4 linked regions of the Homo sapiens genome follow. The protein of the gene in region 1 interacts with the protein of each later gene in a biochemical or structural test. Each region holds a gene or a part of one and is shown in the gene's direction. Other genes may lie near its edges.

Evidence for each region.
Region 2: of the proteins of SPRTN (region 1) and USP11, one has a biochemical effect on the other in vitro, tested with the Homo sapiens proteins (one study listed by BioGRID).
Region 3: the proteins of SPRTN (region 1) and KPNA4 interact in a test that uses a peptide from one of them, tested with the Homo sapiens proteins (one study listed by BioGRID).
Region 4: the proteins of SPRTN (region 1) and VCP form a complex in vitro, tested with the Homo sapiens proteins (2 studies listed by BioGRID).

The regions. Positions count from the first base shown.
Region 1 is NC_000001.11:231,344,736-231,348,329, forward strand, and holds part of SPRTN (DNA-dependent metalloprotease SPRTN), read left to right. Parts: intron 1-3,061; coding exon 3,062-3,190; intron 3,191-3,594. UniProt on the Homo sapiens protein: DNA-dependent metalloendopeptidase that mediates the proteolytic cleavage of covalent DNA-protein cross-links (DPCs) during DNA synthesis, thereby playing a key role in maintaining genomic integrity.
Region 2 is NC_000023.11:47,245,844-47,248,847, forward strand, and holds the end of USP11 (ubiquitin carboxyl-terminal hydrolase 11), read left to right. Parts: intron 1-1,228; coding exon 1,229-1,378; intron 1,379-1,460; coding exon 1,461-1,576; intron 1,577-1,767; coding exon 1,768-1,856; intron 1,857-1,949; coding exon 1,950-2,087; 3' UTR 2,088-2,485; downstream 2,486-3,004.
Region 3 is NC_000003.12:160,555,572-160,559,071, reverse strand, and holds part of KPNA4 (importin subunit alpha-3), read left to right. Parts: intron 1-3,500. UniProt on the Homo sapiens protein: Functions in nuclear protein import as an adapter protein for nuclear receptor KPNB1. Binds specifically and directly to substrates containing either a simple or bipartite NLS motif.
Region 4 is NC_000009.12:35,059,065-35,062,658, reverse strand, and holds part of VCP (transitional endoplasmic reticulum ATPase), read left to right. Parts: intron 1-308; coding exon 309-442; intron 443-520; coding exon 521-656; intron 657-969; coding exon 970-1,082; intron 1,083-1,479; coding exon 1,480-1,644; intron 1,645-1,735; coding exon 1,736-1,858; intron 1,859-2,133; coding exon 2,134-2,346; intron 2,347-2,857; coding exon 2,858-3,166; intron 3,167-3,439; coding exon 3,440-3,594. UniProt on the Homo sapiens protein: Necessary for the fragmentation of Golgi stacks during mitosis and for their reassembly after mitosis. Involved in the formation of the transitional endoplasmic reticulum (tER).

The DNA.
Region 1 (3,594 bases):
TGATTTTTGCTTAAAAAAATTATTTATATTTTTTAGAGCAAAAACCCCAGCAATCTTAAATGCTTTTGTTAATTTTGCACAGAAACTTGTGCATCTTTGGTGTGGAATGAGCAGTAGGTTTTAGTGTTTGTTTCAAGTTTTCATGATTTCTGAATCAAAACCCAAAAGCTGTAGAAAGCTATACACAAAGATGTCTTGTTCAGTGTCCTCCTCTATCTTGAACTCCTTACTTGCTGTAGGAGCTGTTAGTTTCTTTTCATTTTTCTGTTTTGCAAATATTTCTATTCATTTTTATTCCTCCTCCCCACCATACAAAATTTTTCTTACACAAAATACTATGTACATTCTTCTGTACTTTGTCTTTTTCTTTTTCTTTTCTTTTCTTTTCTTTCTTTCTTTCTTTGTTTCTTTCTTTTTTTTTTGTTGCCCAGGCTGGAGTGCAATGGCATGATCTCGGCTCACTGCAACCTCTGCCTCCCAGGTTCAGGTGATTCTCCTGCCTCTGCCTCAGCCTCCCGAGTAGCTGGGATTACAGGCGCCCGCCACCATGCCTGGCTAATTTTTGTGTGTTTAGTAGAGACGGGGTTTTACCATGTGGGCCAGGCTGGTCTTGAACTCCTGACCTCAGGTGATCCACCTGCCTCGGCCTCCCAAAGTGCGGGGATTACAGGCATGAGCCACTGTGCCCAGCCCCCTGTCTTTTTCATTAATACGCTCTATAGCTTTCTCCAAACCATTTCATGTAGATCCTTCTCATTCTTTTTTGTGGCTGCATAGAATTCCATTATATGGATGTATAAAACACTGGAGTTATTTCTAATCTTTTGCTGTTATAAGCAGTGTCACAGTGAATACACCTTGTGCATATGACCTTGCATGCTAGTCTAGGTATTGCTCTCTCAGAAGACAAATGCATTTGTAATTTTGTTAGATGCTACCAAATTTTCCATAGGAGAATTGCACTCCCACCAGCAGTATATAGGAATGTTTATTTTCCCTTAGCTTTACTAATGGTGTCAAACTTTAGGAGTTTTACCAATCTTGATAAGCAATAAATAACATCCTAGTGTAGTGTTGGGTTTTTGTGGGGGTTTTTTGTTTTTTGAGACAGGGTCTTGCTGGGTTGTCCAGGCTGGAGGTAATCATAGCTCACTGCAACCTTGAATTCATGGCCTCAAGTGATCCTCCCATCTCCGCCTCCTGAGTAGCTAGGACTACAGATGCACAAGCTAATTGTTTTATTTTTATTTTTATTTTTTTGTAGAGACAAGGTCTCACTATGTTGACCAGGCTGGTTTTGAACTCCTGGCCTCGAGCAATCCTCCCACCTCAGCCTCCCAAAGTGCTGGGATTACAGACATGAGCCACCACGCCTGACCATCCTAGTGTAGTATTAATTCGCATTTCTCTTTTTATAAATAAAGTTGGGCATTTTTTCTTTTCTTTTCTTTTTTTTTTTTTTTTTTTTTTTTGAGATGGAGTCTTGGTCTGTCATCAGGCTGGAGTGCAGTGGTGCATTCTCGGCTCACTGCAACCTCTGCCTCCCAGGTTCAAGCAATTCCCCTGCCTCAGCCTCCTGAGTATACTGCTCGGACTACAGGCGGGCGCAACTATGCCCAGCCAAAATTTTTTTTTTTTTTTTTTGTATTTTAGTAGAGACAGGGTTTCACCATGTTGAGCAGGATGGTCTCAATGTCCTGACCTCGTGATCCGGAAGTTGGGCGTTTTTTCATTTGTTTGTGGGTCATTTATACTTCTTCTGTGAACTCCATGGTCTTTGCCCATTTTGAAATTGGGTTGTCATTCCCTGTTGACATTAGGAGCTCCTTGTATATTAGGAATAGCCTGTGATAAGAGTTATACATATATTTTTCTGAGTTTGTCTTTTTACTTGGTGTTTTTTTCCTATAGAATTTTAAAGTTTTGTCTGGGTGCAGTGGCTGACGCCTATAATCCCAGCACTTTGGGAGGCTGAGGCGGGCAGATTGCTTGAGGTCAGGAGTTTAAGACCATCCTTGCCAATATGGCCAAACCCCATCTCTACTAAAATACAAAAATTAGCCAGGCATGGTGGTGCACACCTGTAGTGCCAGCTACTCAGGAGGCTGAGGCACGAGAATCACTTGGACCGAGGAGGCAGAGCTTGCAGTGAGGAGAGATTGAGCCACTGCACTCCAGCCTGGGCAACAGAGTAAGACCCTGTCTCAAAAAAAAAAGAATTTTAAAGTTTTTATGTAGTTGAATTCATTGATTTTTCTGGATTTTGATATATAGTCAAAAAGGTCTTCCTAGAACAGGGAGTTCTTAACCTGTGATTTTCAGAGCTTTAGATGTTACACAAATTTGAGTACCCCTTCTCTGAAATGCCTGGGACTAGAAGTGTCTTGGATTTCAGATTTATTTGGATTTTGGAATATTTGTGTTATTCTTACAGGTGGAGCATCCCAAATCTGAAAATCCGCAATGCTCCAATGAGCATTTCCTTTTGAGTGTCATGTCATTGCTCAAGAGTTTCTGATTTTGGAGCATTTTGGATTTTCAGAGTTGGGATGCTCAACTCATATGCAATATTTTGTGAATGAGTGCTTATATAATTTTTATAGAATGAGGTGGGTTTTTTGTTGTTGTTGTTTTGTTTTTGTGAGACAGTGTCTCATTCTGTCCCCCAGGCTGGAGTGCAGTGGCACAATCACAGCTCACTGCAGCGTCAACCTCCCCAGGCTCAGAGGATCCTCCCACCTCAGCCTCCTGAGTGTAGCTGGGATTACAGGCATGCACCACCACACCTGGCTAATTTTTGTATTTTTTTGTAGAGACAGGGTTTCGCCATGTTGCCCAGGTTGGTCTCCAACCCCTGGGCTCAAGTGACCCTCCCACCTTTGCCTCCCAAAGTGTTGGGATTACAGGTGTGAGCCACTGCACCCGGCCTAGAATGAGTTTTATCAGTTCTGAAGGAAGCCTGTGATACAGAAAAGGTTAGACACCAGATAGAATAAGAAAATTTATATTTTCCAAAGTGTCATACAGACTCTAAAACTAATTTGAATATTTTATGTTCCAGACCCTCCTGCATGAAATGATACATGCCTATTTATTTGTCACTAATAACGACAAAGACCGAGAAGGGCATGGTCCAGAATTTTGTAAACATATGCATCGCATCAACAGCCTGACTGGAGCCAATATAACGGTATAGAAAGCCATATCTATTTATGATGTTTAGTAGTTGTTTATTCAATAACTCCTGAGATTTAATTAAAAGTAGAGAACTAGGTAGAAACAAGTATCTTTGAGGATTTTCCACAGCGAACGAGAGGCCTAGAGAAGCAAATTGGCTTGTCTGGGACTACATGGTGGAATGGCAGCAGAGCCAGTGATATCCCTGAGGCCTCTGACCTCTTCTGAGTCAACATTTTACACACAGGTAATTCAGGCCTGCAGTACGTCACTTCTGGAATCATCATGATCTCTTAACTTTGTTTCCTTATTATTGTCTTTTTTAGTCCATCCTGTATCCTGCTACCATTGCAGATGTCATTCCCTCATCAGAATTCTTCTTTGATTCATATCTCTGTATAGCATTGTAGGAGATAG
Region 2 (3,004 bases), on another chromosome or scaffold:
TATATTTAGCTCTTTAAGTATACCTTCCTCCTCCCTCCTCCACACTCAAACCCTTCTTGCCAACCTGGCCACCAATCTCCTGAGCAGACTCCTACCCCAGAGCCTTGGCCTGTGCTGTTCCTTCTCCAGGAATGTTGTTCCCAGTGATCTACAGGACTTCACTCCTTACGATGCTCAGGTCTCCGATCAAATGTGACCTCATCAGAGAGACCTCCTCTGACTACCCTGTTAAAAATCACCCTTCCCCACCATCCCTCTCCATCCCCTCTCTGCTCTTTTCTTCCTAGCCAAGCATTACTTTCTAGCTCAGCGATGCCACTTGATGTGATGTCCTGTATCCACTTTTGTGTTATTTGTCATCTTCGTTAGAGTCAACTCCTCGAGGGTGAAGACTTAAGTTCACTGTGTGTTGCTTCTACCTGTTTATAATAGTGTTGAGTGTTCGGTTGATGCTCAGTAGACACTTGCAGAATAAACAAAAAGAGAACCAAAACCACACTCCCTAGTCTCAGAAATAAGAGCAGCATGTCCGTGGAGCAGAAATGGAACAGAAATACAAAATAGTTCCAAAGGGTTAAACAAGCAATCAATAAATACTGGGGAGTGAATGAATGACTAAAATACGAAGAGAGGAAACTAGAAGGATAGAGGTGGGCTCTAAAATAAGACTAGCATCTCATGGAACAGAAATCAAACAAAAATACAAAAAATAGTATGAGCACATATACAAAAGATAGTAAGCACTTGACGAGTGAGTGAAAGGATTTTAACAGGAACAGAGCAAACTAGAATACTAGATGGGCTAATAGTAAGAGCAGTGTTTCTGTGAGCCAGACATGGCACGTGAGAGGCAGTACAAAGGGCGCACAGTAGGTGCTCAGAAAAAGTCTGTTTTGGCTGGGCATTGTGGCTCATGCCTGTCATCCGAGTACCTTGGGAGGCCGACACGGGTGGATCACCTGAGGTCAGGAATTCAAGGCCAGCCTGGCCAACATGGTGAAACCCTGTCTCTATTAAAAATACACAAATTAGCAGGGCATGGTGGTGCATGCCTGTAATTCCAGCTACTCGGGAGGCTGAGGCAGGAGAATCGCTTGAACCCAGGAGGTGGAGGCTGCAGTGATCCGAGATCGCGCCACTGTACTCCAGCCTGGGCAACAGAGCGATTCTCTGTCTCAAAAAAAAAAAAAAGAAAAAGTCCGTTTGCTGACTCGGGCTCTGTCTGTAGGTACTGCCCTTCCTGCAAGCAGCACCAGCTGGCAACCAAGAAGCTGGACCTGTGGATGCTGCCGGAGATTCTCATCATCCACCTGAAACGCTTTTCCTACACCAAGTTCTCCCGAGAGAAGCTGGACACCCTCGTGGAGTTTCCTATCCGGTCAGGGGCCAGGGAGAGGATGGCTGGGGGAAGGCAGGGAAAGGAGGGGGTGTACCAGTATTAACCCTCTCCCCACCCACAGGGACCTGGACTTCTCTGAGTTTGTCATCCAGCCACAGAATGAGTCGAATCCGGAGCTGTACAAATATGACCTCATCGCGGTTTCCAACCATTATGGGGGCATGCGTGATGGACACTGTATGTGCCAGGCTGTGGGTGGGGCCTGCCCTGGGGGTTCTGGGCAGGGGGGCGATCAGGACCTTCCCAGTGAGTGACTAGGGATGTGAGCCAGTGGTGAGGTTATCGTGGTGGGAGGAGTGACAAGAGTGAATCTGGACACTTCTGAGAGGCAGGAAGGGTAGGCGAGGATAACTCTCCTTCCCTTTCAGACACAACATTTGCCTGCAACAAGGACAGCGGCCAGTGGCACTACTTTGATGACAACAGCGTCTCCCCTGTCAATGAGAATCAGATCGAGGTGTGACTTCCATCCTACCTCCTCCCCTTCTTCCTTTCTGATTCCACCTCCCCACCCCCACAATCCACACTGACTCCTGTCCTCTCCCCACAGTCCAAGGCAGCCTATGTCCTCTTCTACCAACGCCAGGACGTGGCGCGACGCCTGCTGTCCCCGGCCGGCTCATCTGGCGCCCCAGCCTCCCCTGCCTGCAGCTCCCCACCCAGCTCTGAGTTCATGGATGTTAATTGAGAGCCCTGGGTCCTGCCACAGAAAAAAAAAAAAAAAAGCCCTCTCTGCAATCTCGCTTCTCGTGTCCGCCCCGCTTCTCTTATTCGTGTTAGGTGCCCCCGCCAGGCATTGCAGGCTTAGTCGTGGCTACTGTTCTCCTGTGCCGCTGCATCGCTCTCTCCCGGGAAAGAACAGGTCGTGTCTCCTCCTAGCAGTGCGCGCCCCGCCTGTGTTTGCCCTTCCAGCAGTGACCCTCCCTTCTAGTCTTTATTTATGGTCGTGCCCTTCCCTCTCCTCAGCCCAGAGTGTTCTGCGTGGGTGGTGATGGGGGTTCACCTGAACACAGAGTGTATTTTCTTATTGAGGCCCTGTACCTTCTGCTGTGTGTGTGTATATATAAAGCACCAGTCTGCTCCCCACTCAGCAGTGTGGTTTTTTCCTCCATGGACTTAACTAAGCACCAGTTTTGTGCCTGTGTTCTGTGTTCTTATCAAAGGCCAGATGTGTGATGGGTGCAGCTCTGAGTGGTTAGTGAGCACCAGCTGTGGGCTGGGTACTGCTGTTCTAAGTGCTTTGAAAGCACCCTCTGTGTGCCAGGCACGATTCCAAGCACCAATGGCATGCCCAGTTTTTTCCAAAATATTTTCCAAATATTGATACGTAATCCTCACAACAATCTCATGCAAGAGTTGTCATCTCCAGTTTCGGATGGGGATACTGAGGTACAGAGGTCACAGAATTGCTCAGGGCTTGTCAGGAGGTCAGTATACCTCATGTGCTACCCGAGTCGGTCCCTGGAGTGGGTGCTTGGCTTGTCTGGACCCAGGACTGCTACTCAATCTGCAGACATGAGCTGCCCTACAGGCAATGTGGAAATGGAGCACGTGGGACGGATGCATCCATGTGGGCAAATTTGTGGTTTGGGGACATAAAAATAC
Region 3 (3,500 bases), on another chromosome or scaffold:
GTTCACAACTCAGTTGCACAAGTACTTTTTCCTTGAGACAGTCGTCCTTAAGTAGAAGTTGGTATGCAGCAGAAGTGGCTTATATGTAATCTTCATTTTTTTCACACAATTAGAAAAGGCCAATATTTAATAAAAGTAATCATTTTTTACTGTTTCCTCAAGGAATTCTTAAGTGAGCTGACTTTTAAACAAATTTTAGATGTGAAATCAGTGACAACTATTGCATCTTGATGTCATTACCTTAATTCATTCTAAAGCACCAGCAGTCTTACCCCTATGGCATCAATTCAAGTGTTAATACAATTTTTTTTTTAAAAAAAGTATTAGTATTATCATTAGGAAAATAGTTTTGACCCTGTGTACTCTCTGTAAAGGTCTCAGGACCCACATAGGGGCCCGTGGACCATGCTTTGAGTGCCACTCTTTTAGTTTACCATTGCTTCTTTTGCACATGAGTGTCACTTTTAATTAATACAGGCTCTTAAAGGACCTTATAGTATAGGGGTTAAAAGACATGGACTGTAGAGTCACTTAGGTCTGGGTTTGAACTCTGGTTTCTCCACTTAGTAATTATGGAGGCTAACTTAATTATGTCTAAGCCTTTGAAATGTTTAACAATGCCTAGCATAAAGTACATGCAGAGTAAATGGAACCTCTTACTATTTCTGCCAACTTACATAGTCATACATTGCATCCAAGTAAACCCCTATGTTCCATATCAGAATAACATTTTGCTTACAAAATTCCTCTTGTACCTCTGTGTGCCATAATCCAAACCACATCATACAAATTTGGGAAGGCTTCTTATTCCCCTTATTTAACAGTCACCTGAAAACCTACTTTCTCCCACATACTTCAGCCAAATTGTCACATACATACTAGTTTATGACTTCATTTCTTTAATCCTATGTTTTAAGTGGGTTACTAAATGCTTTATGTAGATTTTGTCACTGTTTTCTCAAAACATTGTAAATATAATCAGAAAACAACTATAATTCACACTATTTAGTACCCAGAATGAAAATGATTTAAGGTCATAGATATTTGTTGGTAATACAAGATTAAGTTGATTATTAAAGATGCTAAACTTTCCCAGGCACAGTGGCTCATGCCTGTAATCCTATTGCTTTGAGAGGCTGAGGCAGGAGGATTGCTTGATACTGGGAGTTTGAGACCATCCTAGGCAATATGGTGAGACCTTGTCTCTACAAAAAAATAAAAATAAAAAATTTAGCTGGATGTGGTGGCACACACCTGTAGTCATACCTATTTAGGAGGCTGAGGCAGGAGGATCGCTTGAGCCCAGAAAGTGGAGGCTGCAATGAACTATGACCATGCCACTGCACTCCAGCCTGGGTGACAAGAATGAGGTCTCATCTCAGATAGATAGAAATTTTTAAATGCTGACTTATTTTCTATTACTGTTTATTTACTATTCGGACAAAATTTAGTCACCTGTCATTTTTTCCCTAAATTTTTATTTACTTTAAACTTAATGTAAATTAGATTTTAACTAATGATGTATTTTGACAAACATGGAATTTCATGAATTTTTTTACTAACAAAAGTCGGAATCCTAAGATAGTATGTTTTTTACTAGTTCAGTGATGGACATATTGTCTAATATTAGAAGGTAAATCATAGTCTATCTCAGTGTCCTGTTCTTTAATAAAAACTTTAGTTTGCACATATCTACTCTTTATGTTTTTTAAAGTATGTCTTTCTGGACCCTTGAGGTAAGTGTTACATAAATTTATTTAGTTGAGTAGTTTTATCCCGAAAGACCTATGTTAAGTGGTCTCTGCTTGGTTGTATTAAATGGCCCTGTCCTGTTTGCCACCTGTTCTTCCTCTTCACACTGGCTTTTTAGCCACTTTAAGCTGTTACTGGTCCAGAAAAACAAGCAAGATAATACCTTAAGGTTTTCAAATAATTGTTAACATCACTCCTTGTTCTTTAGTAGGTGTGAAACCCAAATATTCTCCAGCTCTTTTTAAAATAGTGCAGAGGATTTGGTTCCTTGAGGCCGGGAGTTTGAGACCATCCTAGGCAGTATAGTGAGACCTCATCTCTACAAAAAATAAAAAATTTAGCTGGGTGTGGTGGCACACACCTATAGTCCTACCTATTTAGGGTAGGTTTGGTTCCTTATTTCACTTTTGAATATTATGTGGAGATGTTCATTTTACTACAGATATATCTATAGAATTGGGTTCATTGTTGATCAGCTGTTTCAGACACCTTAAATTTGTTCACGTTTTTTCTCTTAATGTTGTGAATAATTTTTCCCAATTCCCTTTTTATTCTCCAGCTTTAAAACAATGACAGTACAGGTTGAGCGTCCAAATCCAAAAATCTGAAATCCACAATGCTCCAAAATCTGAAACTTTAAGCACCTACGTGATGCTTAAAGGAAACACTCATTGGAGCATACCAGATTTTGGATTAGGGATGCTCAGTCTCTAAGTATTATGCAAACATTCTAAAATCCAAAAAAATCCAAAATCTGAAACACTTGTGTTCCCAAGCATTTCACATAAGGGATACTCAATGATGAAAAGTTTAATTAAGACCAATAAACAAATAAAAAATAGGATCCGCCTCATTAGTCATTAGGGAAACACAGCTCTAAAGCATGATGAGATACCACTTTACACCCACTAGGATGGCAGTATATAAAAAGAAAATAACAGGTGTTGGTGAGGATGTGGAGAAAGTGGAACCCTCATACATGCCTGATGGGAATGTAAAATGGTACGGCTGCTTTGGAATGCAGTTTGGCAGTTCCTCAAAAAGTTAAACAGTTAACATGTGACCCAGCAGTTCTACTAATTAGATATAAATCCAGGAGAATTGCAAACATAATGTCTGCACAAAAACTTGTAAATGAGTGTTCATAGCAGCATTATCCATAACAGCCAAAAGAGGGAAACAACTTGGCTGGGCGCAGTGGCTCACGCCTGTAATCCCAAGCACTTTGGGAGGCCAAGGCGGGCCGGATCACCTGAGGTTGGGAGTTGGGAAACCAGCACTACCAACATGGAGAAACCCCGTCTCTACTAAAAATACAAAATTAGCCAGGCATGGTGGCGCATGCCTGTGATCCCAGCTACCTGGGAGGCTGAGGCAGGAGAATCACTTGAACCCAGGAGGTGGAGGTTGCAGTGAGCTGAGATCGGGCCATTACACTCCAGCCTGGGCAACAAAAGCAAAACTCCTTCTCAAAAATAATAAATAAATATAAATAATTTAAATAAATAAAATAAAAGAAGGAAACAACCCAAATACCCATTAACTGATGAATGCACAAAGTATGGTATATGCATACAATGGAGTATTGTTCCGCTATAAAATGAAGTATAATAGTTCACCCTTATCTGCAGTTTTAGTTACCTGCAGTCAACTGTGATCAGAAACTAGGTGAATATGTGATACAACAAGATATTAATATTTAGAGAGAAAGAGATCCCACATTCACATGACTTTTCTTACAATATATT
Region 4 (3,594 bases), on another chromosome or scaffold:
AGAATGCTGTTTAGTGGTGTGCCATCTGGTGTGCCATCTCTCTTGCTCTAGCCAGAGGTCCTAGAGCATTTGCTGTCACCTTTACAGTTCAACTGTGAGAAGAGTATAGTGAGTCCCTGGGCTTCTCTCCAGCCTTGCCTGGTGGCTGTCCTGGGATAATGGCTGGTAGAGGATGTGAGAAGTAGGCAGAGGTTACCACCTTCTCACCCAGGACCTGTCTCTGGGCCAAACAAGCAAGATAACTGATTTTTGGGAGGAATTGGGAAAGACTATCATTTTGTTATTGTCTCCATTCTGTATCCTTTCAGGTCCTGAGATCATGAGCAAATTGGCTGGTGAGTCTGAGAGCAACCTTCGTAAAGCCTTTGAGGAGGCTGAGAAGAATGCTCCTGCCATCATCTTCATTGATGAGCTAGATGCCATCGCTCCCAAAAGAGAGAAAGTAGGAGCTTACCTGAGGGGATAGAGGGGGGTTGAAAGGCCCTGACTTCACTTCTGACCAGACATCCTGTTCTGGCAGACTCATGGCGAGGTGGAGCGGCGCATTGTATCACAGTTGTTGACCCTCATGGATGGCCTAAAGCAGAGGGCACATGTGATTGTTATGGCAGCAACCAACAGACCCAACAGCATTGACCCAGCTCTACGGCGATTTGGTAAGGACTCCAGATACTTTTGACCCCGTCCTTGCTTAGGTCCTACTTCTCTCCTTCATCTAAGTCACCTAATCCTCTTGAAGCCCTTCACAGTGATTGGGTCCAGGGGTCTTTTTCCTTTACCCTACGTCCTGTCTAGAGTGACCAACCACCCTGGTTTTCCTGAGACTGAAAGGTTTCCCAGAGCTTGAGACTTTTTTAGTGCTGGCATTAGGACAATCCTGTGCTGGCTGAGATGGTTGGTCACCCTAGGCCTGTCTCTTACCTCTGGACTAGAGATGAGCCCTGTTTATGTTTGTGTACTGTCCCACAGGTCGCTTTGACAGGGAGGTAGATATTGGAATTCCTGATGCTACAGGACGCTTAGAGATTCTTCAGATCCATACCAAGAACATGAAGCTGGCAGATGATGTGGACCTGGAACAGGTGAAGTGATGATGATGGCTGACCAGGCGTTACAGTGTCTCTAGGCAGTTGCTGGGAACTGGCTAGAGACATAAGGTTAAGATGTGAGGAGATGGGTTTTGATTTCTGGACAGGGGAAAGGAAGTAATCTGAGATTGAATCCAGGAAATGGGAGTTGGCATTTTTCATAGTTGACGCTGCATTTAGAGTAAATCAGAATTGTTGGAGCAGCCTTATTTCTAGGTCCCAAGTCCAGAATTAAGTACTTAAAACCCAGCCCATAAAGGTATTGATAGTATATATTCAAGGAAATGAGAGGACCCAGGGATAGCAGTCAGGGGAAGGATTCTATTGTCTCTGAGCCTCCTGCAGCAGCTGGGTCTTTGAGGCAGCATAGTAAGTAGATCTTTCTCTGCAGGTAGCCAATGAGACTCACGGGCATGTGGGTGCTGACTTAGCAGCCCTGTGCTCAGAGGCTGCTCTGCAAGCCATCCGCAAGAAGATGGATCTCATTGACCTAGAGGATGAGACCATTGATGCCGAGGTCATGAACTCTCTAGCAGTTACTATGGATGACTTCCGGGTAAGGACCACACCCGTGCCTCAGGTACACACATACGTGCTTTGACCCCTCCCTTGATAAGTCTCATCCCCAGTTTTCCCTCCTTTTCTAGTGGGCCTTGAGCCAGAGTAACCCATCAGCACTGCGGGAAACCGTGGTAGAGGTGCCACAGGTAACCTGGGAAGACATCGGGGGCCTAGAGGATGTCAAACGTGAGCTACAGGAGCTGGTCCAGGTAGGGCAACTTGGTCCAGGGTGAGTCACTGTCTCAGTACATTGTAATTGATCTGGGTGATCTCAGGGTGTCAACACATTTGCTGCAAGAGTTGTGAGAGCACGACTTAGGAACCTACTGTTCTTAGGTTTGAGGCACTAAGGAGTCTTCTTCTAGAGAACCTGGATCTGATACCATTGGGTACACCATGAAATAATGGAGGGGATGCTTCTGTTTAGTTAGGTTTCTTTCAAAATGTGGAGGTAGCCTTGAACCCTCTTTCCTTTTCCTCCTAGTATCCTGTGGAGCACCCAGACAAATTCCTGAAGTTTGGCATGACACCTTCCAAGGGAGTTCTGTTCTATGGACCTCCTGGCTGTGGGAAAACTTTGTTGGCCAAAGCCATTGCTAATGAATGCCAGGCCAACTTCATCTCCATCAAGGGTCCTGAGCTGCTCACCATGTGGTTTGGGGAGTCTGAGGCCAATGTCAGAGAAATCTTTGACAAGGTGAGCTACAATAGGCTGAACTATGTATTGATTTGCCTGAGGGCAAGGAATAGAGGCTGTTTTTCTTTAAGAGGGTTGAAATATTCTTAGTGCTGGCTGCTCAACTGCACAGTAAGTCACTTGATTTTCTTTCTGAGGTCTGAGAGACCTAGTGTTATTTTTTTTTTCTCTCTCTCTCTCTTGAGACAGGGTCTGGCTCTGTTGCCCAGGTTGGAGGGCAGTGGTACAGTCATGGCTCACTGTAACCTTGAAACCTGGGCTTAAGCAATTCTCCTACTTCAGCCTCCTGAGTAGCTGGGACTATAGGCATGCGTCACCACATCTGGCTAATTTTTTATTTTTTGTAGAGACAAAGTCTCAGTATGTTGCCCATGCTGGTTTCGGATTTCTGGCCTCAAGTGATCCTCCCACCTTGGCCTCCCAAAGTGCTGGGAATACAGGTGTGAGCCACCACGTTTGCCTAGAGACATCTAGTTTTGTTAGTGCTTGAATCAATCCATTCCTCCTACAGGCCCGCCAAGCTGCCCCCTGTGTGCTATTCTTTGATGAGCTGGATTCGATTGCCAAGGCTCGTGGAGGTAACATTGGAGATGGTGGTGGGGCTGCTGACCGAGTCATCAACCAGATCCTGACAGAAATGGATGGCATGTCCACAAAAAAAAATGTGTTCATCATTGGCGCTACCAACCGGCCTGACATCATTGATCCTGCCATCCTCAGACCTGGCCGTCTTGATCAGCTCATCTACATCCCACTTCCTGATGAGAAGTCCCGTGTTGCCATCCTCAAGGCTAACCTGCGCAAGTCCCCAGTTGCCAAGGCAGGTGCAAGATCATGGGCTGTGGGAGACTTGCATGAGTCCTCAGGCTGGTACGGAGTGCTCTTTAGTTTCTGGACAAGATTCCACTGGGGTTAGGGTTGGTCTAAAGGGAAGGTAGAATTTTTGAGGATATCAAGATAATCTAGAATCAGGAATAAAATGGGGTGGCCAAAGAAGGGGCAAACTGTAGTTGGGAGTGCTCGGGTAGCCCAAAGATCTGCGTATCTCGAGAGGAGAGGCTAAATGCTAAGGTACCTCTGCTGCTGCTTTTAGGATGTGGACTTGGAGTTCCTGGCTAAAATGACTAATGGCTTCTCTGGAGCTGACCTGACAGAGATTTGCCAGCGTGCTTGCAAGCTGGCCATCCGTGAATCCATCGAGAGTGAGATTAGGCGAGAACGAGAGAGGCAGACAAACCCATCAGCCAT